Regions from separate parts of the Homo sapiens genome. Here regions 1, 2 and 4 are each reported to be linked to region 3. The links are microRNA targets in miRTarBase. Many come from high-throughput screens and were not tested one by one. Region 3 holds a microRNA gene; each other region holds the end of a gene's coding sequence.

Region 1 (5,259 bases), not on the chromosome of region 3:
CTGGGAAGAAGAGCTCACCACTGTGCGACAGGCAGAGCATCTCTGGTCAGCCGGGTAGGGCAGCCTGGGGCACAGGAACAGTTCTGGGAGAGATGTGATGGGAGGAGGTGGGGCTGGCAAAGAGGCATCCAGGTCGGCATAGAAGGCAGAGGTAGATTCAGATCCAAGGAAAGAGGAGGGGAGCTGGGGTCCTTTCATCTGAGTGAAATTTTCTTGAGGGCCAGAGGCAGGAGCTGAGGCAGAGGAGCTAGGAAGGTGAGGGAGGGGGCCCTTGGCCTTTCCCACATTTCTGTGCCCCACCTTCCAGGGTGGAAGACTTACTCCTTCACCAGATGAGGCTGCTGCTAGTTCACTCAGCTGTGGGCTGTGGCCCCTTTCCTTCCCGCTCCCTGTCGACCCCTTCCCCTGTCCTCCTAGGTACCCCGTGGCCCACAGCGGGCTGTTAGAGCACAGGTCTTGCTTGTGTGGACCCTAGCCTCCAGGCCCTCAGATGCCCACTCCTTGGTGCATAGGGCTCTGGGAGAGGGTGGTCCTGCTATCTCGGCTTCTATCCCTTTTGACACTAAGATGCCTCGCTTGCCGGACCCTCAACCACACTCAACTCCCAGCTCTGTCTCTCTTAGTGGCTTGGGGCACCAATCTCCCCATCACACAGAAGTTGGATCCAGAGCTCCGCATGAGGCTGAGGATGAGCCTAGGGCTGGCCTGCCCCTAGGAGCCTCCCCCACCCCCCACCCCTCAGGGGTGGGGGGCTGCAGCACTCCCAGCCTTCTGCCTGAAGCCCGTTCCCAGCCTGTAAGCTGGGCGCCTGCTCCCTTGAATTCCCTCCCTCCCTCTCCCTTCCTGAGCGCTGAGCTGTGGAGCAGAATGATTTCCTGTAATTGGCCAGCAATCCGGCCGCCCGACTTGTTCTATCGACATGCTGGTTAGCTGGAAATTGTATTGGAATCTAAGTGACTGGGAGCGGAGGGGAAGGTGGGGAGCAAAGAGAGGCGGTTTGGGTCCCAGCTGGGTGCAGCCTCAGCTCTGCAGGTGGGATGAGGAACCACCAGCCACGTCTCTCCTGGAAGGAGCAGGAAAGCAACCTATAGCACCACATCACCTCCTTCCTTTTGCTCCTTCTCTCCCACCATGTCCGGGGGTCTCCCTGCCCACTCCTATATGACCCCATGGCCTGAAGTCATCACTGCCATCGCATTCCCCCTCCTGCTCTGAGACTGTTTCCTTCTGACCTAAAGTGCCTTGGTGAGAACTAGGGGCGCTCAGCAGCGCGCCTATCCTGCTCCCATTCAATTTCTAGCCATGGAGGCTCATCATGGAAGGTCCTAAACCTTTCCCTGCCTCTGCCCTGCCCCCCATGAGGAGAGAGAGAGAATGAACATTTGAAGAAGAGTTGTCAATTACTAAAGAGCCAAAGTGTATAATGGGGGCAGTGCAGATAGCCGGAGGAGCACTGTACTGGGAGTCAAGAAGCTTGGTGGTTATACCTGTTGGCTACTTAGGCCCCTTGGCTCAACCTCTGAGCCTCTGTAAAATTCTGGACCTGTCTGCCTCACACAGCTGGGAGATTTCAAGGGGATAACTGGAACGTGCTTTGTAAACTGTGAAACTGCGAATGACCTTCGGGCCAGTCGGGCCTGGGGGTGGGGGTGTTTTAGAGGCCTGCCTGCGCCCTTCGTCCCCCGCCCAGAAGGCGTGTGCGTCTTCACCCTCGCTGGTGTCTTATTGCTCCGCTCCGGGTGCTAAGGCCCAAAGTGAGGGAACGGAACGCGGAGGCTGCAGGGTCCCGTCGCCGTCGCGGTGGGTGGGCAGGGGACACGCCCTTTGGCACCCAGGGCCCGCAGCCCAGGCTCAGAGGACGTGGGCGAACAACGCACCTTTTGAGTTAGCGCTCAGGGTCAGGCAGAGCCTCCGCGCCCACCTGGCCCGTGCTCCCGCGGCAGCTGCTCGGCAGGAGTCTGAGGCCGCCCGCGGCCTGGGAGGAGGAAGATTAGGCCGCTCGGCGAGCGCCCGCCGCGGAGGCCCGGCCCAGCCCGGGAGGGTGCTGCCACCTGCCGGCCGAACGGCAGGCCGCCGGCTCGGGCGCGGGCCTGGGTCCCGGAGGCCCGACCTCTGCAGTTGCTGAGCGGCCTCAACTTCAAGTCCCCTTCGGAGAAAGTAGTCCTTCTTTTAAGGCCGCCTTGGACCCCCAAGGCCGGGAAGGGGATCCTGGGGCAGGGAGGCAAGAGGAGCTGGAGAGGGAGCTCTGGCGAGGCCCGGGCAGGGCAGGGCTGAATTCGAGGTTTCTCCACACCTGCCATGCTCTGACATTCCTGCTTCAAACCCAGCTCACTGGGTCAGGGAAGGTTAATTCTCTGGAACTTTACAGTTTGCTAAGGGTTTTCAGTGTCCTCCACTATGAAGCCTAACGATGTATGAGTAGAAACTAAAGGCAGGAGGTCACATGGCAAGCGGAGCCGGAATGCGAGCCCAAGGCCCAACCCCAGGCTCCAGCTCCTCCTGACAAGAGGCTCAGGGCACAGGAGAGAGTTCAGAAGCCTGGCTCTGCAACCTGGACCAAATCCATCTTTCTGAGCCTGGGATGGAAATAATCAGTGTTATGTTAACTATAGGGTCTTACACATCCAGCAGTGCCTGGCATGCTGCCGATACTAGGAAGTGCCATTTCCTCAATTATTGGGGTGATAGGGCACTGTGGGGGTCCATACCTTCCCTCTCCTTTCTCCGTCCTGGCGGATCGCACCAAACCGAGGAAGTGGCAGGCTCCTGCCACCCTCATCCTGCCTGGCCACCCACCTGGCAGCCCACCACTGCCTTACCCGGCCCTTCTTTGCCCCTTAGGGGTTTGCAGCAAGTTAATGAGCTAGACTCAGCACAAGCGGCTCTGGGAAAGGGGGCACTAAGTATGGCCACCACAGCATTTGCATCCGTCACACTCATTTCTAGCCTTAATAGGCTTCTGGCTGCAGGATCAACACATCAGCAAGTCTGCAGGCCCTGGCAGGGAAGGCTTATGTCTGCGCTGGTCTAATTGGGTTGGGGAAGGCAGATGGGGAGGCGGGGCAAGAAGGTGTGACGCTGCCTCAGCCCTCTACCCACCTCCCACAAAGGTGCCTCGGGCCTGGCTGCAGTCCTCCTGGGACCCAGGGAGAAGCCTGATGGCAAGTGCACCTTCTGGGGCCCTCACCTCCCCCTGAGCTCCGGGAGGACTCCAGCCCAGTGTGGGAAGAAGCCAAGTCTGGGAATCTTGGTTGGTCTGGGGCATTTCAGATCAACACACTTTATTAAACACCAACAGCGGGCCAGGCTCTGCACTAAGAACACAGAGATGAATAAGACACTGTCCCTGTCCCTAGAGGGCTTACAGTCTAGTAGGAAAAACCAGGCAAGTTTCGGCTAATTACTGTACTGTTGGATTAAGGTAAAATGTTGAGGGGGAGTTGGTATCCTAGACCACCTAACCCAGCCTGGGGCTTTAGACAGTGCCTGAACTGAGAGCTAGTTGTAGGTTAAAAAAAAAAAAAAAAAAAAAAAGGAAGAAGAAATAAAAGAAAATAAAAGGTATCCCAGGCCAGGAGCAGCAGGTTGAAGGCACAGAGGCAAGAAACAGCAAGGATGGTGTACACGGAATACCAAGAGGTCCAGGCGAGAAGCAGGGGTGGCAGGCAATAAGCAGGATGTGGGAGCACTACACAAACCCTACGTGGGGAGAGGGGTCTCCCAGAAGAGGCTGGTCCTGCCTGGCTACAGCGTTACCCACGAGAGAATCCTTGCTGCTTGCTGGCAGCAAGCCATACTGGGGGGCCTGGGCCTTCAGTATAAAAAATATCTCAACCTAGGGGAGGGCCTTGTTGACTGTTTGAACATGGAAACCCTTGGTCCAACATGATTTCCCGTGGTCCACTGAGGAGGTTTAGGCCACAATGGGGTAGGTGCTTAGAGAGGATTCAAGCCCAGTGAACCCTTGGCCTCCCAGCTCTGAGGAGGGCCACAGAGCCAGTATTCCCTACCCCCACCCACAGAAATGTATAGCAGTCTCTGACTGTTGCTTTCACACACCATCACGGTTGCTGTTCTGTAGGTGCTGCTCAGGGAAGGTGGGAAGGACAGCAGGCTATTTCTTGATCTCAAATAGGATACACTCCAAAGACGGGATGGCCTGGCACAGAGGCCCAGCCCTGATTCGGAGAGTCCGTGTGTGTGTGTGTGTGTGTGTGTGTGTGTGTGTGTGTGTGTGTGTGTGTGTGGGGAGGGGGCTGAGAGGAAACAGGATGTGTTACCTGGCTTCAGCCTCCAAGGAGATAGATGGAGGCCTGGGGCTCCCTGCCTTGAGTGCCCCACTAGGCGTAAGGCAGAAGGTAGTGGGTGAGCAGGTAGAGGAGGCTGGCAATGGCAGCGAGCCCTGTGAGGACCCCAAACCTCAGCGGCAGGTACTCCAGGGAGCGCTCCAGCTCAGTGTGCAAGAGGATGACCTGGCGTTTGGTGACACTCCACTCGCCCGAGTTGTCTAGGACATGGCGGGCCATGCGGGCCTTGTCTGTCAGGGGCAGCTGGGCATTGATGCGGGCCTCTGCGTCCTTGCGGTTCAGGCTGTTCCGCCGCATCAGCCGTGCCAGCTGTGTGTCCCGGTCGCTAAGGATAGGGCAAAAGGGCACTGTAGGTCCTGCCTCCCTCTCACCCCAAGTTACAGGGATAGGCAGCCCTGCCAGGCCCAGCCTGAAACAGAGAGCATGGGGACTGGATCTTCCCTCCAACCCTACCCTGCTCTGGGCTACTTAGGGTCCCACAGCCAGGGAGGGAGGCTTGGAAGCTCACTGGCTGCCTCACACCCCACTCCACTCACTGTGAGGAACCCAGAGCTCTATGGGCTACGGAAGCCCCTTAATACAAACAAGGGGGGAACTTTGGCCACAGCTCTTTTTTTTTTTTTTTTTTTTGCCATCTGGGGTCTCTTTGCTTTGCTACTAGACCTGACATTCCCCAGTCATAAGGTGGGAAGATTTCATCACCTGGAACCAGCTACATCCTGGATCCCTGGATGGGTGACCTTTACTGAAAGGCCTATGCCTATGAGCTAGACGCTTCCTGCAGTTCCCCTGGGGGCCTGGGTCTTCAGTATCAAAAATACCTCCTTGGGCCATCACAGAGACCCCCTCTCCTTGCTGCTATACCCCTCCCCTGAACATTTAGAGTAAAAGGATTGTGCTAAGATGGTATCTCTTGTGCTTAATGCCACTGATGATGTGGGACAGACAAGCC
Region 2 (5,250 bases), not on the chromosome of region 3:
GAGACCCATGTTAAACCTTCCAACAGAGATCCCAAATTGTCCTGCAAGAGGTACTTTCCCTCCTTTCCAAGAATGCACAAGCTGCAAAAAATTCCATCAGTACCTACTCCTTGTGCCCAAAGCTGTTTTTGCCACTTGCCTGTCACTGCTTCAAAGTGGGTCTGTGAGGGCTGAAGCAAGATGGGCTGCTACAGTGTATTCATCTGTTAGACAAATGTTTTTTGACTTCCTGGTGTGAGTACAATTATTGTATGTATGCACTTTGCTCACTTTTTTCATATTATTCTTTCTAGACCACTAGGTTACAAACCTCTTTAAGAATTAATTAATTTTTTCATACAGTCGTCCATCCCATCTGCAAACATTTACTGACTCTGACTAGGCACTGGCAGTACAAAGTAATGAAACACTGCAGATGATGTTCCTGCCCTCACGGAGCTTCTATTCTTCAATTCAATGGAAACAATGGGCTCCAAATTTTGTCAGAAAGTTTACAAACGCCAGGCATGGTGGCTAACGCCTGTAATCCCAGCACTTTGGGAGGCCAAGGCAGGCGGATCATGAGGTCAGGAGATTGAGACCATCCTGGCTAACACGGTGAAACCTCGTCTCTACTAAAAATATAAAAAATTAGCCGGGCGTGGGCCGGGCACCTGTAGTCCCAGCTACTGGGGAGGCTGAGGCAGGAGAATGGCGTGAACCCGGGAGGCAGAGCTTGCAGTGAGCCAAGATCACGCCACTGCACTCCAGCCAGGGTGACAGAGTGAGACTCCGTCTCAAAAAAAAAAAGTTTACAAACCTCACCCTAAAGAATTCTTGCCTTCAGGTGTAACTGTCTTCTTTGTTTGTTTGACAGAAACCATACTCAGGAGGTCTTTGTCTCCAAGAAACAGCCCGGGAAGGCAGCAGCATCTCTCCACCATGGTTCATGGCCTGTAGCCCCCCACCCCTCTCTGCTTCCTGCAGCCCCACTGGGGGTTCCTCCCAGGTGCTGAGTGAAAGCGAAGAGGAGGAGGAGGGGGCTGTGCGGTGGGGTCGGCAGGCGCTGAGCAAGCGGACACTGTGCCAGCGGGACTTTGGGGACCTGGACTTGAATTTGATTGAGGAAAACTAAAACTGAGAGGCTACTTCCTGGGGCCACACAGACTGACTCTCTCATGGCTACTAACAAGTGTCGAGTCCCCAAGGCTGGGGGCCGAGCCTGGGAATGGGGGTGAGTGGAGGGCTCCGACTCAGGGCAGCTGGAAATCTTCTCGCTCCAGCAAGCTCGACCATGCCAAGAGACTGGCCGGGACAAGATAAACGGAGCTGGTGGCGGGAGGGACAGCCCCAGAGCAGACCCTTCCTATGGCGGCCCTGAGTGTGAGTATCCCTGCCACCAAGAGAGCAATGGGCAGGGAAGGAAGGGGTCTGCCGACCCCAGCTCGGGGAATTTCACTAGCCCCTTTGCTTCAAAGGGCACTTGTGTCTTAGAATTTGGCCAGGGTGGGGGGTTGAGTCAGCCTCCTCAGAGAAACTGCGTGAGAGTGTGTGCGTGCATGGGAGTGTACTTGTGGAAAGGTGTGTTTGCGTAGCCTTAGGGAAGGAAGGCAATTGCTCCTTAACAGCAGAGTATCATGATACCCCCAGGATCTTGAGTTTTTTACAGGATGTTGGGTTTGCTCAAGGAGTCAAGAGGAGGGCACCAAGTTTTCCTTTTTTCTAAATAGCTCTGGAACCAGGCTTGTAATCCATAGCATCACCGACTCTGCAAAGGATTTCATTTTGGGGTACAGCAGGGTGTTTTAAGTGCTGTGACTTCAGCTAATGATCTTTTCTTCAGCCCCACCCCCTCCCCACTAGCTCGATCTAGTATATTGGGGAATGCAGGTGGGGGGTGTCACCATATTTTTTCTGAGCTGGCCTTTTTTTCTCATCAGATTGTCCAGGCTATATTCCACCTGCCTCTTTTGCCCTCTTGAGTAGAGTTGCACACAGCACATGGGCAACTGAAGCAGGGTTGAGGGGCTCTCTCTCTCTCTCCTCTGCTGATGGGACCCTTTTCCCCTCACCCTCTGCCCTTCTAAGTCATAGACTAGGTAGGAAGGCCCTATATTGGTCCCCAGCATCTACTGAGGCAGACCTGCAACAGAAGTGGCATTCAGTCCCCAGCAGACATGGGTGAGCTCACCCCAGCACTGCTGTTGGGAAGGTGACTGCAGGAAACCAATTCTTACAAGATCCAGGCCCAGCCTTTTTGACCTGCTTGAGAGGGAAGAAGGGGTGTTTAGCATTTAATAGTTTGCTTGTCTTCCACTCCTGCCAGGAAGTGTTTATTTGCCTCTAATTGGGCCTGAGAGACCATAGGGAGGTTGGGGCTCACTGAGGGATTGGCTGAGGATGTATAAAGCAAAGGCTGTGAGAAGCAGTTGGGAGTTTGGTTGTCATTGGATTGAATTTACTTTTTTGTTTCTCACCCGCAACTTGAGCCAGGACAGCTGGTCCAAGTGGCCACAGTGATGGGTTTAAGTACCTTGGTAGGGCTGGCACCAGTGGAAACACATACTGAAGCTGCCACCACAATAGCTTGTGAGGTTTTATCCAGCTGTGGTTAGACCCTGCATGACCAAATTTGACCTGCCCTTGTTTATGGCAAGAAGGGCATTTTTCTCTTCAATTTCCAGGGTTTCCTAGGACCCAGTTCCTCATGTAAGGGAGGAAGACCAAGGTCTTTGTGTTTTCTTCCTCATGGAATTGAACCTGACATTTTCTGGATCTCCTGCATGTCAGGAGCATCAGTGAGGCTTCAGCCTCCTCGTCTCCACTCCAGAGAGGAGGTGGCTATGTCTTCTTAAGCCTCTGGCCCTCAGAGGCTCCTCCCTATCTCCTGGCTAGTTACCACTAGGCTACCAGGTCTCTAGGGGCCTGAGAGAGGCCCTCTAGAGAATCCAGGGAAACTGTGAGCCCAGGAGTTGCCCATCTATGGTTTCATTCCTCCCCTGGCTCTTCTCCCTCTTCAGGCCATAATTTCCCTGGTGCCAATTTCTTTTCCTCCTGGGGCATCCTCATCCCAGGGCTCTCTGCTGTAGATTGGCTGTGCCAGCTTCCAACAGGTTACTGGCAATGCCAGTGAGTTTCTGTAGGCCCTAAGCTGAAGAAGTGAGGCAGTGATTCTGCCTCCATCCTGGTTTCCCCAAAGCCCCAGGGCACCATCCTTAGGGGAGAAGGTCTACAGTTATCATTATTTTAATTCCATTACTTTCAGTCTGGAAAACTAAGCTAGTCAGAACTGTCATCTTGCTTCCCAATCTAAGAACCTGTGGCCCTGGAACACTTTTCAAGAATTGGTTCATTTTGCTTTACACAGTAGATCTGTTCCAACAGTTCTGTGTAAACCAAATGCTATTTTTCAATGCATTTGGACTGCTGACCATTTAAAAGCAGCCTATGATTGCTTCTTTTTGTAAAGCAAGCAACCTCCCTCCACTTTAGCTGTTTTGACTATTTGAATTTTCACATATTGGGCTTACCCAGAGTGGAGCACACCTCCAGGGCATGTGGCTGACACTGGGTCAATGTCTGCATCTGTGCTGTGTGTGTAGTGTGGTTGGCCAGTAGGTGAGTATCCCTGTGTGTGTGAGTGAAGCCACTCCCCAGGCTGGTGCTCTCCTCCTGTGCCCAGTGACTGCCCAGTGGCAGCTCAGCTGCCCTTCACTCCCACCTGCTGCCAAAGTCCCTGTGCTAATGGGATTACAAATACAAAAAGTGGAAAAAAATTTTCGTAAACTTTGTTTTATATTAAAAGAAAAATCCATAAGTCTGTGTGTGTTAAACATGAGGTTCTGCCTCTGTGGCTGTGTTTGAAAAAATAAAGTTTTATTAGAATAATCCATTTTCCCAAGCAACCTTGTGTACTACAGTGTCTTCTTCCCTTCCCCACAAAGACAAGGAAGAAGCAGGGTAGAAGGCCACCTAACTGTTCCAGCCCCTTCATCTAAGATGTGGGTCAACCTTTCAAAAAGGGGCAGTATTTGGACCCTAGGCCCTTTGCCGGCCATGGCAGGATGTTATACTGTGGCCCAGGCTTCTGCTAAGGCCTTGGTTATTTTTGGCAGTCTGGTTTGGTCTCTCTTTCCCTGGCAGTTATACTTGTCTCCTCCTGCCTGCTGTCACTCTCACTTCCAGCAAGTTGAAGTCAAGTATGAATGCATTCCAGCTCCCTGAGAAATGGTTTATGGTACAGTCAGGAACTTGTCTAGATTGGTTTGTAGGCTTTGGGAAGTAGGGAGAAGGCAGGGTGGGAGACAGCCAGGGATCTTTCTTAAGTTTTCACATGTTACATCCTGGAGAGATAGAGGTTTAGTCATCAGAATTCAGATTCCATAGACCTAGGCAATTTTTCCATCCTAAAAATACTGCTTTTGGAAAATAATCCTAGCTGCAAAGCTTCTCTTTTGTTGTAGAAGACAGTATTTTCCCTAATGTTTCCTTTGGGAGTGTTGGTTTGCCAAAAGAAGCTATGTGGCTCACTCTTTAGACCTTTCTGTTCCACCCTTTCTTCTCTCTATGTTGACATTCTTCCAATGTGTGTGGGTGAAGTGTAGTTGCTTAGAGATCCAGGCAGGAGCCTCTGTCTCTAAGGCTTAGCCTTTCTTTACCAGTTGTGGTGCTAATTTGCCAGGCAGCAAGAAGAGTCAAGTTGCTTAGCTTATGTCCTGGTTTCCTGCTTCAAATTGGTGGCACTCATCATTGAATACCAATGAAGTGTGTGCAGGACAGGACTGACTTGACTACCTGGAGCAGGAATCTTTGCAGGGGTGCACATACACCCTAGAAAAAGTGAGGGTTGTCACCTGCCCTGGAAACAAAGGAAGGGCTTTGGGGAAGTGGTGGGCAGTGGCATGTGGTTAAAGAAGCTTAGAATTACAGGGTTTTTTTTCTTTAAAACTGATGTTTCATTTCACCTACTGCTTGAGCAGGGGTAAAGTTTGAACATCTAAAATGACTTTGTTTCCCCCTTTTTTTCTTTTGAGTTTATTTTTGTTGGATTTTTCTGCTATTTTCTGTGAGGCCAAGTGTGATTTTATTTTTCATTCCTGAAGTCTTGTTAATATAGGAAAGAACGTAAACTCCATGAGGGCAAGAGTTTTGTTTTATTCAATATTGTGTCCCCAACACTTTGGGAAGTTCCTGGCACATGAAAAGTGCTGGTCACATTTGTTGAATGCATTTCCCTTTTGCCTTTCCCATCCGTGAACTTAGGTACATTTC
Region 3 (5,287 bases):
GCATGAGGTGGTGGGCTGGGTGGGACTGAGGAGGCAGCCACCTGTCCCCATGTGTTCTCCCCATGCCTGTGGTCAGAACAGCCCAGGCTACTTGGAGGTGATGTCTGCGTGTCACCAGCGGGCGGCTGATGCCCTGGTGGCAGGGGCCATCAGCAACGGGGGCCTCTACGTGAAGCTGGGCCAGGGGCTGTGCTCCTTCAACCACCTGCTTCCCCCCGAGTATACCCGGACCCTGCGCGTGCTAGAGGACAGGGCCCTCAAGCGGGGCTTCCAGGAGGTGAGTGTGCGCTCAGGCCGAGGGAGGTGGGGCCTCCAGCAGTGGCCCCAGGCTGCTCTGAGCACCTGTCCTTCCAGGTGGATGAGTTGTTCCTTGAGGACTTCCAGGCCCTCCCCCACGAGCTCTTCCAGGAGTTTGACTACCAGCCAATTGCTGCCGCCAGCCTGGCACAGGTGCACAGAGCCAAGCTGCACGATGGCACCAGCGTGGCTGTGAAGGTATATGGGGGCTGCCTTGTTCAGCAGTGGGCTGGGGCGGGGCACAGTGGGGCCCCAAGTTCTCACCACACCCTCGCCCAGTGCAGGTGCAGTACATCGACCTGCGGGACCGCTTTGATGGGGACATCCACACCCTGGAGCTCCTGCTGCGGCTCGTTGAGGTCATGCACCCCAGCTTTGGCTTCAGCTGGGTCCTCCAGGTACAGCCCCACCCCTTCCCCGGCCAGCAGGAGCAAACACGTAGGCAGAGCTGGTAGGAGCAGCTGGTAGGCAGAGCTGGTCTTCAACCGCCATCTGGCCCCCAGGACCTGAAGGGGACCCTGGCCCAGGAGCTGGACTTCGAGAATGAGGGCCGCAACGCAGAGCGCTGTGCGCGGGAGCTGGCGCACTTCCCCTACGTCGTGGTGCCCCGCGTGCACTGGGACAAGTCCAGCAAGGTGGGCTGGGCCAGGCCCTTGGGGTGGGCACAGCGCTGGGCCTGCTGAGCCCAGCCTCTTGCTCTCCCCAGCGCGTGCTCACTGCCGACTTCTGCGCCGGCTGCAAGGTCAACGATGTGGAGGCCATCAGGAGCCAGGGGCTGGCAGTGCATGACGTGAGTGCGGGGGGGCGGGGGCGGGTCAGGGCGGGCTGGTGCTGTGTCCACTGCAATGCCTCTCCTCTCCCCAGATAGCAGAAAAGCTCATCAAGGCCTTTGCTGAGCAGATATTTTACACCGGCTTCATCCACTCGGACCCACATCCTGGCAACGGTAGGAATTTACCCCAGGGGTGGGGGTCTCAGGGTGGGCGCAGCGCGACCTAAGAGGCTGTATCCCTAGTTCTGGTGCGGAAAGGCCCGGACGGGAAAGCGGAGCTGGTGCTGCTGGACCACGGGCTCTACCAGTTCCTGGAGGAGAAGTGAGCGCGGGTGGGTGGGCGTGGGGCAGGGCAAGCCTCTCCTGCCGCAGGGAGCTCATGGCTGCGGGCCCATCCACACCCAGGGACCGCGCAGCCCTCTGCCAGCTGTGGCGGGCCATCATCCTGCGGGACGACGCCGCCATGAGGGCGCACGCAGCCGCACTGGGGGTGCAAGGTGAGGGCGTGCGGGGATGGCTGGGGCACCACAGAAGGGAGTCGGGCGGCGCGGAACCCACTCAGAGCCCCCTCCCTCCCTCCCTCCCTCCCTCCCCAGACTACCTCCTGTTCGCCGAGATGCTCATGCAGCGCCCCGTGCGCCTGGGGCAGCTGTGGGGCTCGCACCTACTGAGCCGCGAAGAGGCGGCCTACATGGTGGACATGGCCCGCGAGCGCTTCGAGGCCGTCATGGCGGTGCTCAGGGAGCTGCCGCGGCCCATGCTGCTGGTGCTGCGCAACATCAACACCGTGCGCGCTATCAACGTGGCCCTCGGCGCCCCCGTGGACCGCTACTTCCTTATGGCTAAAAGGTCGGTGGCCCGAGGAGGCGCCCGGGCCGTGGTGGGGCTGGTGTGGGGCTGACGCGGCGCTAACGCGGGTGTGTGCAGGGCTGTCCGGGGCTGGAGCCGCCTGGCGGGCGCCACGTATCGGGGTGTCTACGGCACCAGCCTCCTGCGCCACGCCAAGGTCGTCTGGGAGATGCTCAAGTTTGAAGTGGCGCTCAGGTGAGTGGCCGCGGGGCAGGTGGGTGGCGGGGGCCTGCTCCCCACCCACCTGTGACCTGTGACCTGACCCACGCAGGCTGGAGACCTTGGCCATGCGGCTGACCGCCCTCCTGGCTCGTGCTCTGGTCCACCTGAGCCTCGTGCCCCCAGCGGAGGAGCTCTACCAGTACCTGGAGACCTAGGGTGCAGCCGCCCAGGGCCGGCGGGGCCCTTTTCACCTTGGGCTGACGGAGGTGGCGGGGCTAGAGGTGTAGACACCCCGAGCCCCGTGGGCACTCGCACTGGGGGGCTGTGACAGCAGCTGGGCCAGGAGGCCGTGTAATGACCACACACTCCTCTCAAGCAAAAAATGTTTTTCCTTGTGTTTTGTACAAAAAGGGGGTGGGAGGTAGTTCCGTGTGCTGGTGGTGACGGCATCCACGGGGCTAGAAGTGGGCGGTGACGCGGTCCGTCTCCAGCAAGTCGTCCAGGATCTGCAGGGGATGGAAGGGTGGGTGGGTGGGTGGGTGGGGATGCACACGGAGGGGCGGGGCGCGCGGGGGGCGGGGCGCGCACTCACTATGTCTGGTGTGGTGCCGATCTTCTTGGCTAGCTCGCTGCGCTCCATGGTGCTCAGGTACAGGTAGCGGTTGAGCAGCTCCCCATCCAGCACGTTGCGCACGGCATTCTGGAGGGTGCGGCGGTCCACGTGCAGCATCCTGGGGCGTACAGGCACAGGTGTCAGGGCAGGCTGGGGTGGAGGGGGTGCTGCACGGGGGCGGGGCCGGGGCTCACCGGAAGGCGCGGGGGTTGAGGCCGGCGTGGTGTGGCAGCATGGTGGTCAGCGCGTTCTGCAGCATCAGCAGCCGCCGGTAGGTCTTCTCCTGCATGGGCAGCAGCAGCCCGATGCCGCCGTCCAGGGTGGCTGGCAGGGGTAGGGTGAGGGTTTTGGTGTGAGCCAGGCCAACCCTAGGGCCCCCCACCCAGACACACCTGCTCCCCCACACTCACCAAACCACGTGATGTGCTTATTCTCCCACACGACCGACTTTTTGCTGAGCCCTTCAGTGGCCCCCCGGCACGGGGTCCTCCAGAACGTGTTCACGTGGGCACCCACGTGGAAGTCTGCCCGACGCAGCAGGCGCATGCCCCCGAAACTCTCCTTGGCTAGACCAGAAAGGCCTAGGGGTCACTGCTAGCCCAGCCCCGGCCCAGGCAGAGGGGGTGGAGGAAGCACTCACCTTCGGGCAGGTACATGTACACCATGAGGTTGCGGTCGCGGTCAGACACTGGGGAGCAGAGGCCCAGGGTCAGCCCCGGCCACCCCCAGAGCCTCAGCTCCCCAGGGCCCTGCCCACATACCCAGAAAACCCAGCTGGGCATTGTCCACCATGAAGTCCACGCTGTACACCTCCAGGGGCTTGGCATCCTGGGGGCGGGAAGGGGGCGTCAGAGGTGCCTTGGGCGGGTACCCACCCAGACACGAGCACCGCCGCCACAGGTGTACCCGCGACACCAGGCTCAGCGTCTTGCTTTCCTCCTGGTAGCGCAGCAGCGAAATGCTCTTCATGACGTCGGCTGCCAGGATGAAGTTCTTGACGCTGATCATCTGGTGTATGTAGAGCTGCGTGTCGATGAAGGCCATGCCCGTCAGCTCGCTGGCCCGCAGGCTCCACAGGAAAATCTGGGGGCGAGGGCGAGGGTGAGCGGGCGCGGACGGGGAGCCGGGTGAGGGTGAGCCGGGGGACACACGCCGGGTGGGACTGGCACACCTTCTGGCCGATGGCCGACACCAGGTGGCCATTGCAGTGGCACAGGGCGGTCACGGGCCCCTTCTGCTCCTTCTCGTAAAGGACTTTGAACTTGTTCTTGGTCAAGGGCTGGCCAGGCTCGGGCACCACCTCAATCACATCCATGATCAAGATCTGGAGGGCATGGGTATGGCTGTGGGATGGCTGTGGGGATGGCAGAGGGGCTGCCAGTTCCCGCCCCCGCTCACTGGCCCCTTACCCGCCCTCGGCACGTGACCTCCTCCCCCTGCATGAGGCAGGTCCCGGCGGCCACGTAGCCTTTGAGGCCCGACACGGTCTCCTCACTGCGCAGAGACACTGTCTTCATGCAGGTCACATGCTCCCACTCCTGCAGCTCGATCCTGTGGGGGCCAGGGGCCTCAGGATGCTGCCTGGAGGCCTTGGGCAGACCCCACCCCCGCCGGCCCAGCCTCACCTGGCATTGGGAATAGCCTCCCAGCTGACCGGGGAGATGAGCTGGATGGAGAAGGCCTCCTGCTGGGGGTGGATGTACCGCTCATCTGTGGGGACCAAGGGTGACAGTCAGAGTAGGGCTTCCCCAAGATGCGGCTGAGGATGGGAGTATGGTGTGGGCGTCACCACCTCTCTCGATGGTCTCAAACTCCTTCTCCTCGCCAGTCATGCGTGGGATGCGGGCACACGGCGTGTTGGTGCTGGTGGCCACAGCATACACCTGTGGGTTAGTGAGGGTCACACACCAGTGGCCCGGCCAGGCCCAGAAGGTCCCTGGTGGGGTGGGGGTGGGGGCAGACCTTAGACTCCACGTGGTAAGCCACATAGTGGGCCGTGCAGCGCAGCGGGATCTTCCTGACAGGCCATGGGGCATCATAGGACAGGTAGGCAGGCAGGACACTGATCCTCAGCTCGCCCTGGGGTGGGGGCACAGGGGTCAGGGGATCCAGGGCTAGCCAAGGGCAGGGGCAGGCAGGCCCAGGCCGCCAAGAGCCCTGGGATGTTGCCCTCAGCTCTGTGGGAGCAGGGGTGGGTGAGGGGCAGCTGTGTCCTGGCGAGGTCCTGGAAGGGGCTGCCACTCAGCCTCTGGGGCTCCTCCTGTCCATTTTCCCACGCTCAGCTGGGGCTAGGGGTGCTGGCCACAGGGGATGGGAAAGCTAGGCCAGGAGGGCACTGGAGGCTGCAAAGGGCAGCCCACAGACTGCCATGCTGGGGACTGAAAACCAGGCAGAGGGAGCCAGGGCTGCCCTCTTTCATGGACAGTCCTGAGTCCTCAGGCACCCAGGAAGCACTCACCGCATCCCAGGCAGGGTCTCAAGTGACCTGGTGGTGTGGTGGCTTAAATAGGGAACCAGGATGAGAAAGCCTGTGTGCCCTCCCAAAGTCACAGAGCAGCCAAGGGGCAGAGCTAGCACTCACGTCAGCTCTCCTG
Region 4 (5,232 bases), not on the chromosome of region 3:
TTTGTCTGGGGACTGGTGTCCCACTGGCCACTTGGAGGGAGGGGCAGGCAGAGGACAGAGTTCTGAGGGGTCTGCCTCACCAGCTCCTTCAAGTTGTTCTTGGAGCTGGAGCCACAGGTCCGAGACATCATCTTCAAATTCTACGAGTCCAAGTACGCCTCATGTCTCAAGATGCTGGACGAGATGAAGGTGGGCCCCGCCTGGGGTAGGGGTGAGGTGGGGCCCTGCCTGGCCTCCTGTCCTGGTCCTGACCAGCCCCTTCCCCAGGACAACCTGCTCCTGGACATGTATCTGGCCCCCCATGTCAGGACCCTGTACACCCAGATTCGCAACCGTGCCCTCATCCAGGTAAGCGTGGGGGTCAGGCTGGCACACGGCAGGCGGGCATGCAGGGGGCTGTGGAGCTGACTTCCCTCTGCCCTGCAGTATTTCAGCCCCTACGTGTCAGCCGACATGCATAGGATGGCGGCAGCCTTCAATACCACGGTGGCCGCCCTGGAGGACGAGCTGACGCAGCTAATCCTGGAGGGGCTGATCAGTGCCCGTGTGGACTCACACAGCAAGGTGGCTGTGGGCTGCGGGGCGGTGGGGGCAGCTGGGGGTGAGCCTGGGCCCCGCTGAGCTTGTGCCTGCACAGATCCTATACGCCCGGGACGTGGATCAGCGCAGCACCACCTTTGAGAAGTCTCTGTTGATGGGCAAGGAGTTCCAGCGCCGCGCCAAGGCCATGATGCTGCGGGCAGCTGTGCTCCGCAACCAGATCCATGTCAAGGTGGGCTGGCTTGAGGGGGGGCAGGCGCACGGCGTGTGGGGCCTGGTGGCTGTGAGCTGCTCCTTGTCTCCCCTGCAGTCCCCGCCCAGAGAAGGGAGCCAGGGGGAGCTGACTCCAGCCAACAGCCAGTCCCGGATGAGCACCAACATGTGAGGGGTGAACCTTGGCCTCCAGGACATCTGCACCCCCTCCCCACCTCCACGGACCTCGGACCTCCAGGCGGCTCAGTGCTGCCTGCGGCCCAGCTAAGGGGCCTGGCCACTGGGTGCCACCCAGCCTGTGTGCCCTCCCTGGGGCTGAGGAGGCAGGCGGCTGCTAGTTGTGGCCCTTCCTGGAAGGAGAGGCCTGCAGGGCTCGACCCTGTGGGTTTCTGTCCCCAGGGAGCAGACTGTGCGGCACCCAGGCCCAGTGGCACCATTTCCCAGACCCCTCCTGTTCCCGCCTCAGTCAGGTGCAGACAAGTGGGCGGTGTCCATTAAAGAGCAGACTCAGCGTTGCTCTTGGCTGTTCTTTCCTGCCGTGCAGGCTCTGGTCACCCCTGGGTGGCCTTGGGTTCCTGAGGGCTGTCTCCCTGGGACTAGGCTTGGAGGCAGGGCCTGGTGAGAGAAATGAGAAGCCTGGCCCTCAGATTCAACAGCCCCCAGCAGCAGCCACTGTGGCCTCGCAGGCGGTGCTTCCAAGGCTGTGAGGCATCACGAAGCTCCCGGAGGCTTTGGCCACTTGCCTATGGAGGCGCCTAGGGGAGGTGGGGAGGGGACCTAAGCCCCCACTTTTGTCTACCCAGATGCTGCCTTCATTTAGATGTATCCTGTTGTTCAGAAGCCCCCACTGGCCCCAACCGCACCTGCCCCGGCTCATGCCTCCCTGGGTCTGAGAGGGCAGTGGTCACAGGCTGTGGGCTCTCGCATCTTTGAAATGATTTATTGTTCACTTTTGCACACGCGTGCTGAGGACAGGGCAGGTCCAGCCTGGGGCCTGCTCCCCACTGCAGCATTTCCAGGCCCCCAGAGTGGGCCGAAGGGGGACATGGGCGTGTCTTTCCACATTAAGTAGCAGGAGATTCCCTGAGTAAAAGGCATTTTCTTAAGTAGGACGTGTCCAGGCTCCAGCAGCAGTCCTGGGGGTGGGGGTTGTGGGCCTTCAGGCCAGGGCACTGCCCATGACTTCGGAGAAGCCACCTGGTGTTCCAGGTGCTGCTGGCTGAGGCTCCTGCAGCTCAGGCTGGGCCTCTTTCCAGGCCAGAGACTTCTCCAATTTGGTTTTAAAAAGCAATCCGTGACCTGGCAGAGCGAGTGAGAGGAGTCGGGGGTCAGGAGGCGGAGGGGGTCTGTTTGCCTGCTGCGGGGCGGGTGGTAGGCGCCCTCACCTGGGCAGTCTGCAGTCTCTTTGGAGGCTCGCTTCTTGCAGCAGCCGCGGCACAGGCTGAACACACATCTGTTGCCCTGGGCACAGGAAATCTCGGGAGCCTGTGGCCAGCACCACTCCCGGGGCCAGGCTGGCCAGCAGGGGAGCAGCCCCACTGGGGAAGCCTCTGCCAGATGCCCACGGCCTGGATGCAGCCCTGGGAACTGCTCCCAAGCCAGATGCCTCTCCCTCACCCCCACCCACCCAGACTCTCTTCCCCTCCAGGCCTGGGCAGGGGCTTGGCTGGAAGCAAGGGGCCGTCCTGAGGCATCCATGCCACCTTGAGCCACGTTGCAAACCCAGCTGGGCGGGCACCAGACCTGCCACCCCAAGCAGTGCAGAGACCACCCTGCCCACCCCCAAAGCTGAAGCCTTGGTGGCTTGCAGCCGGAACCCACTCACCTTTGGGTTTCCACACTGGTCACACTTTGCATATTTTGCTAGGAAAAGAACAAAAGGGTGCTGGTGAGTGAGGGCCAGGGTGCCCTGGCTGTGGGGGCTGCCCCGTCCGCCTGCACGGAGCCTGCTGATGGCGTCCATGCCAGCTGTGGCCAGCCAGGCCAGGAGGCTCAGGGAGGGCAGAGGATGCAGGCTGGCCACGTCTGCTTTTCCTTCCGTGAGCAATGGGTGAGGGGATGCAGGGGGCACCATCCTGCAGGAAACGGATAGGAAGCAGGTGGGCTGGGGGGCCGCCGCAGGACGAGCAGCCTTATCTGTCCTACCCCCAGGCAGGGACAAGGGGAGCAGTTTTCCTGCCCACAGGGTCCAAGGGGGGTTCCATGCCCTTCAGTTCCAGGTCTCCCAAGCAAAAGGGCCAAGAAGGGTCAAATCAAGAATTCAGCCTGAAGCCCCACTTCCTGCCTCTCCCAGCTGCCTCATTCAGTGGCCTGGTGGGGGGCAGTGTGGCAGGCAGGGACTGCTGGCACCAGCCTGATGTGGCAGCTGCTCTTGGACTGGCCAGCGCCCTGGGGGTTACATGGGAAGGTTTCAGGGTTATCGCTGGTCTCCCCTGCAGCTTGTAAAGTTGTCAGAGATCTGGGAGGCTGCCACCTGTTGAGGGCCCAGATGGGCTGGCCCAGGATACGGCGGCGACCAGGGGTCTCAGGGGAGACAGCACTAGGCTGAGGCCTTGCCACTGGTGGCTAAGAGAGGGGCGAGCAGCCTCGTCCCGTGCCTTTGGCCCAGCAACAAGACCCATGCACACACTCCCGGGGACCCCAGCCTCCCTCTCAGCAGCTGCTCAGGTGTCCTGTGTGAGGCTGGGCAGGGGCAGCCGCAGGGACCCGAGGCCCTGAGCTGTAGACGAGCTTCACCTGGCTGAAAAGCTTGTCCCATAGCCTCATCTGATTCACTGAGCCCATGTCCCACATGCACGGGCTGTGGCCTGCACAGGGTCCCCGTTCTGACCCCAAGTCTGGCTGACTACTCCGCCAAGCCCTCCAGGTGTCTGCTTCCAGCTCTGGGCCTTGAGCCTTGCTGACCACAAGTCTGGGTTCCTGTTACTGGCAACAGGGAGGATGGGGGTGATGAAGAGGCTCTCTCGGGCCCATCAGCGGAAGCAGCACTTACGCTTCAGAGAGGGGTCGAAGGTCTTGTGGGGGTTCCTCAGCTGCTTCTTTTGCTTGTTCTTGGACAGGACCTCCGTGCCACCCTCCTCTTCCTCCAGGGCCCGCTTGCTGCGCGCACCTGCCTTCTCCTTGCTCCCCTCCCTGGGCCTGAGGGGAGGGCAGCGGGCAGAGCCCAAGGACACTGTGAGAGGGGCCCAGCAGCCACAGCCACACGGGTCTGAGTCTGGGTGAGGGGCCAGGCGGCCGTGGCGAGTGCCGCTGCTGTGAGGAGTGCCCTCCTTTCCCTCGGGCAGCCCATTCAGGACTCGTCACTAGGGAGTCCGGGGCCTCTGAGATGGAGTCCGCAGCTCGGGCAGCCCCAAGCTCTGAACCACCAGCTCCAGGGAGGGCTGTGGCCACGGATGGCCTCACCTCTGAGAACCCAGCAGAAGCTGGGGTCAACCTCTTGACCCACGGGCAAATCCACCAGGATCAGAGGAGCTCAGAGAAGTATGTTATGGAAGAAAAGATTTAAAATCCGAGCGTCCACTGAGGGAGGACACAGCTGAGCCACCAGCATCCTCCACCAAGGACACCGAGGGGCACGTGGAAGGTGTGTGCTGCTCGGAGCCGAGGCCTCCCTCCTCCTTTCCCTTGGGCAGGAGATGACTGACCATAATGGCTGAGGACAAGCAGGGCAGGCGCAGCACTGTGGGCACAGGGTGGAGCCCACACCTTGGTGCACATCCCCGCCCAGGGCTGGCTGGGCTCTCACCCCGGCCGGATGTAGGGCTGGCAGATCCAGTGGAAGGGCAAGTCGCCGGTGGGCTTCGCTCCCTCCTGCCTGGATATCTCCTCCTGCAAAAGCCCAAGGCCCTGGTCATGGCCCCAGCCCCTCACCCCCTGCAAGGCCGGGCTCCCACCAGCCCCAGCACCTGCCTGACACCGCAGCTTCAGCTCCTGGCTCACAGCAGCGATGCCCTCCAGGGTCTTCACCTTGGCCAGCTCCTCTCGCAGCTCCTGGTGCACCTGCAGCCTGAGACAGAGGCCCTGTCACGCAGGCTGGGCTCCCGGCTCCACCGTCAGGCCCCAGGCTGAGCACTGGGCACACGGGGACCTGTGTCTCTTCCTGCCCAACTCCACTCCTAAGTCACCCCAGCCCCTCAAGACCTGACTTAGCAGCAAGTTGTTTTGACAAAACCTGCAAAATGCCCCAGGTGGGGTCTGACGGAATCTGCCTGGGCGGCCCTCCAACGTGGCTTCTGCCTTAGGGGGCAACTCACGTGTGGTGCCACAGCTTGAAGAGGTGGGCCCGGACGTAGGACAGGGGGCAGGGGTGCTCCCGCACGATGTCCAGATACTCCTCGGCCAGCTCCCACACGGCAGGGCTCCGGCCCTCGAACAGGGCGGGGTTGTGCAGGTTGCCCTCTGTGGGAGGAGGAGCGGGGAAGGACACCTCGTGGGTTGCTCCAGGTGGACGGCACAGGAAAGCCTGGGACACTCAGGACA

The links. The annotated mature microRNA hsa-miR-939-5p reads UGGGGAGCUGAGGCUCUGGGGGUG and lies in region 3 at 3,414-3,437, opposite strand. An mRNA with a match to its seed (bases 2 to 7 or 8) in the 3' UTR can be bound and repressed. Matches are read on the target gene's strand: a 7mer-m8 pairs with bases 2 to 8, a 7mer-A1 pairs with bases 2 to 7 and ends in A, and an 8mer does both.
Region 1: the mRNA of DCAKD is a reported target of hsa-miR-939-5p. Seed matches in the 3' UTR shown: 7mer-A1 at 4,246-4,252 and 7mer-A1 at 3,705-3,711.
Region 2: miRTarBase lists FAM53C as a target of hsa-miR-939-5p. Seed matches in the 3' UTR shown: 7mer-A1 at 1,832-1,838 and 7mer-A1 at 3,629-3,635.
Region 4: miRTarBase lists GPS1 as a target of hsa-miR-939-5p. Seed matches in the 3' UTR shown: 7mer-A1 at 961-967.

What each region holds. Positions count from the first base shown.
Region 1 is chr17:45,020,093-45,025,351 of GRCh38, forward strand. It overlaps DCAKD (dephospho-CoA kinase domain containing), which reads right to left. Exons shown (of 5, transcript NM_001288655.2): 5 at 3,252-4,632. The coding sequence ends at 4,341. Among named protein-coding and RNA genes, the nearest start is that of DCAKD, 29 kb to the right of the region's middle. RefSeq lists a silencer at 1,940-2,289.
Region 2 is chr5:138,345,846-138,351,095 of GRCh38, forward strand. FAM53C (family with sequence similarity 53 member C) reads left to right here. Exons shown (of 5, transcript NM_016605.3): 5 at 857-3,884. The coding sequence ends at 1,114. Among named protein-coding and RNA genes, the nearest start is that of KDM3B, 4.2 kb to the right of the region's middle.
Region 3 is chr8:144,390,780-144,396,066 of GRCh38, forward strand. It overlaps MIR939 (microRNA 939), which reads right to left and starts at 3,451; the gene lies at 3,370-3,451. ADCK5 (aarF domain containing kinase 5) reads left to right here. Exons shown (of 15, transcript NM_174922.5): 5 at 77-277; 6 at 355-495; 7 at 582-695; 8 at 801-932; 9 at 1,004-1,087; 10 at 1,162-1,243; 11 at 1,313-1,391; 12 at 1,475-1,566; 13 at 1,666-1,918; 14 at 1,997-2,113; 15 at 2,190-2,463. The coding sequence ends at 2,295. CPSF1 (cleavage and polyadenylation specific factor 1) reads right to left here. Exons shown (of 38, transcript NM_013291.3): 27 at 4,656-4,772; 28 at 4,486-4,576; 29 at 4,319-4,403; 30 at 4,103-4,244; 31 at 3,865-4,017; 32 at 3,600-3,776; 33 at 3,455-3,521; 34 at 3,334-3,381; 35 at 3,104-3,259; 36 at 2,888-3,017; 37 at 2,673-2,811; 38 at 2,452-2,586. The coding sequence ends at 2,539. RefSeq lists silencers at 3,402-3,563, 4,916-5,129.
Region 4 is chr17:82,056,203-82,061,434 of GRCh38, forward strand. It overlaps GPS1 (G protein pathway suppressor 1), which reads left to right. Exons shown (of 13, transcript NM_001321092.3): 9 at 84-189; 10 at 268-348; 11 at 427-564; 12 at 638-772; 13 at 851-1,268. The coding sequence ends at 925. DUS1L (dihydrouridine synthase 1 like) reads right to left here. Exons shown (of 14, transcript NM_022156.5): 8 at 5,007-5,151; 9 at 4,663-4,759; 10 at 4,499-4,581; 11 at 3,746-3,891; 12 at 2,579-2,616; 13 at 2,139-2,214; 14 at 1,304-2,052. The coding sequence ends at 1,913. Among named protein-coding and RNA genes, the nearest start is that of GPS1, 6.9 kb to the left of the region's middle.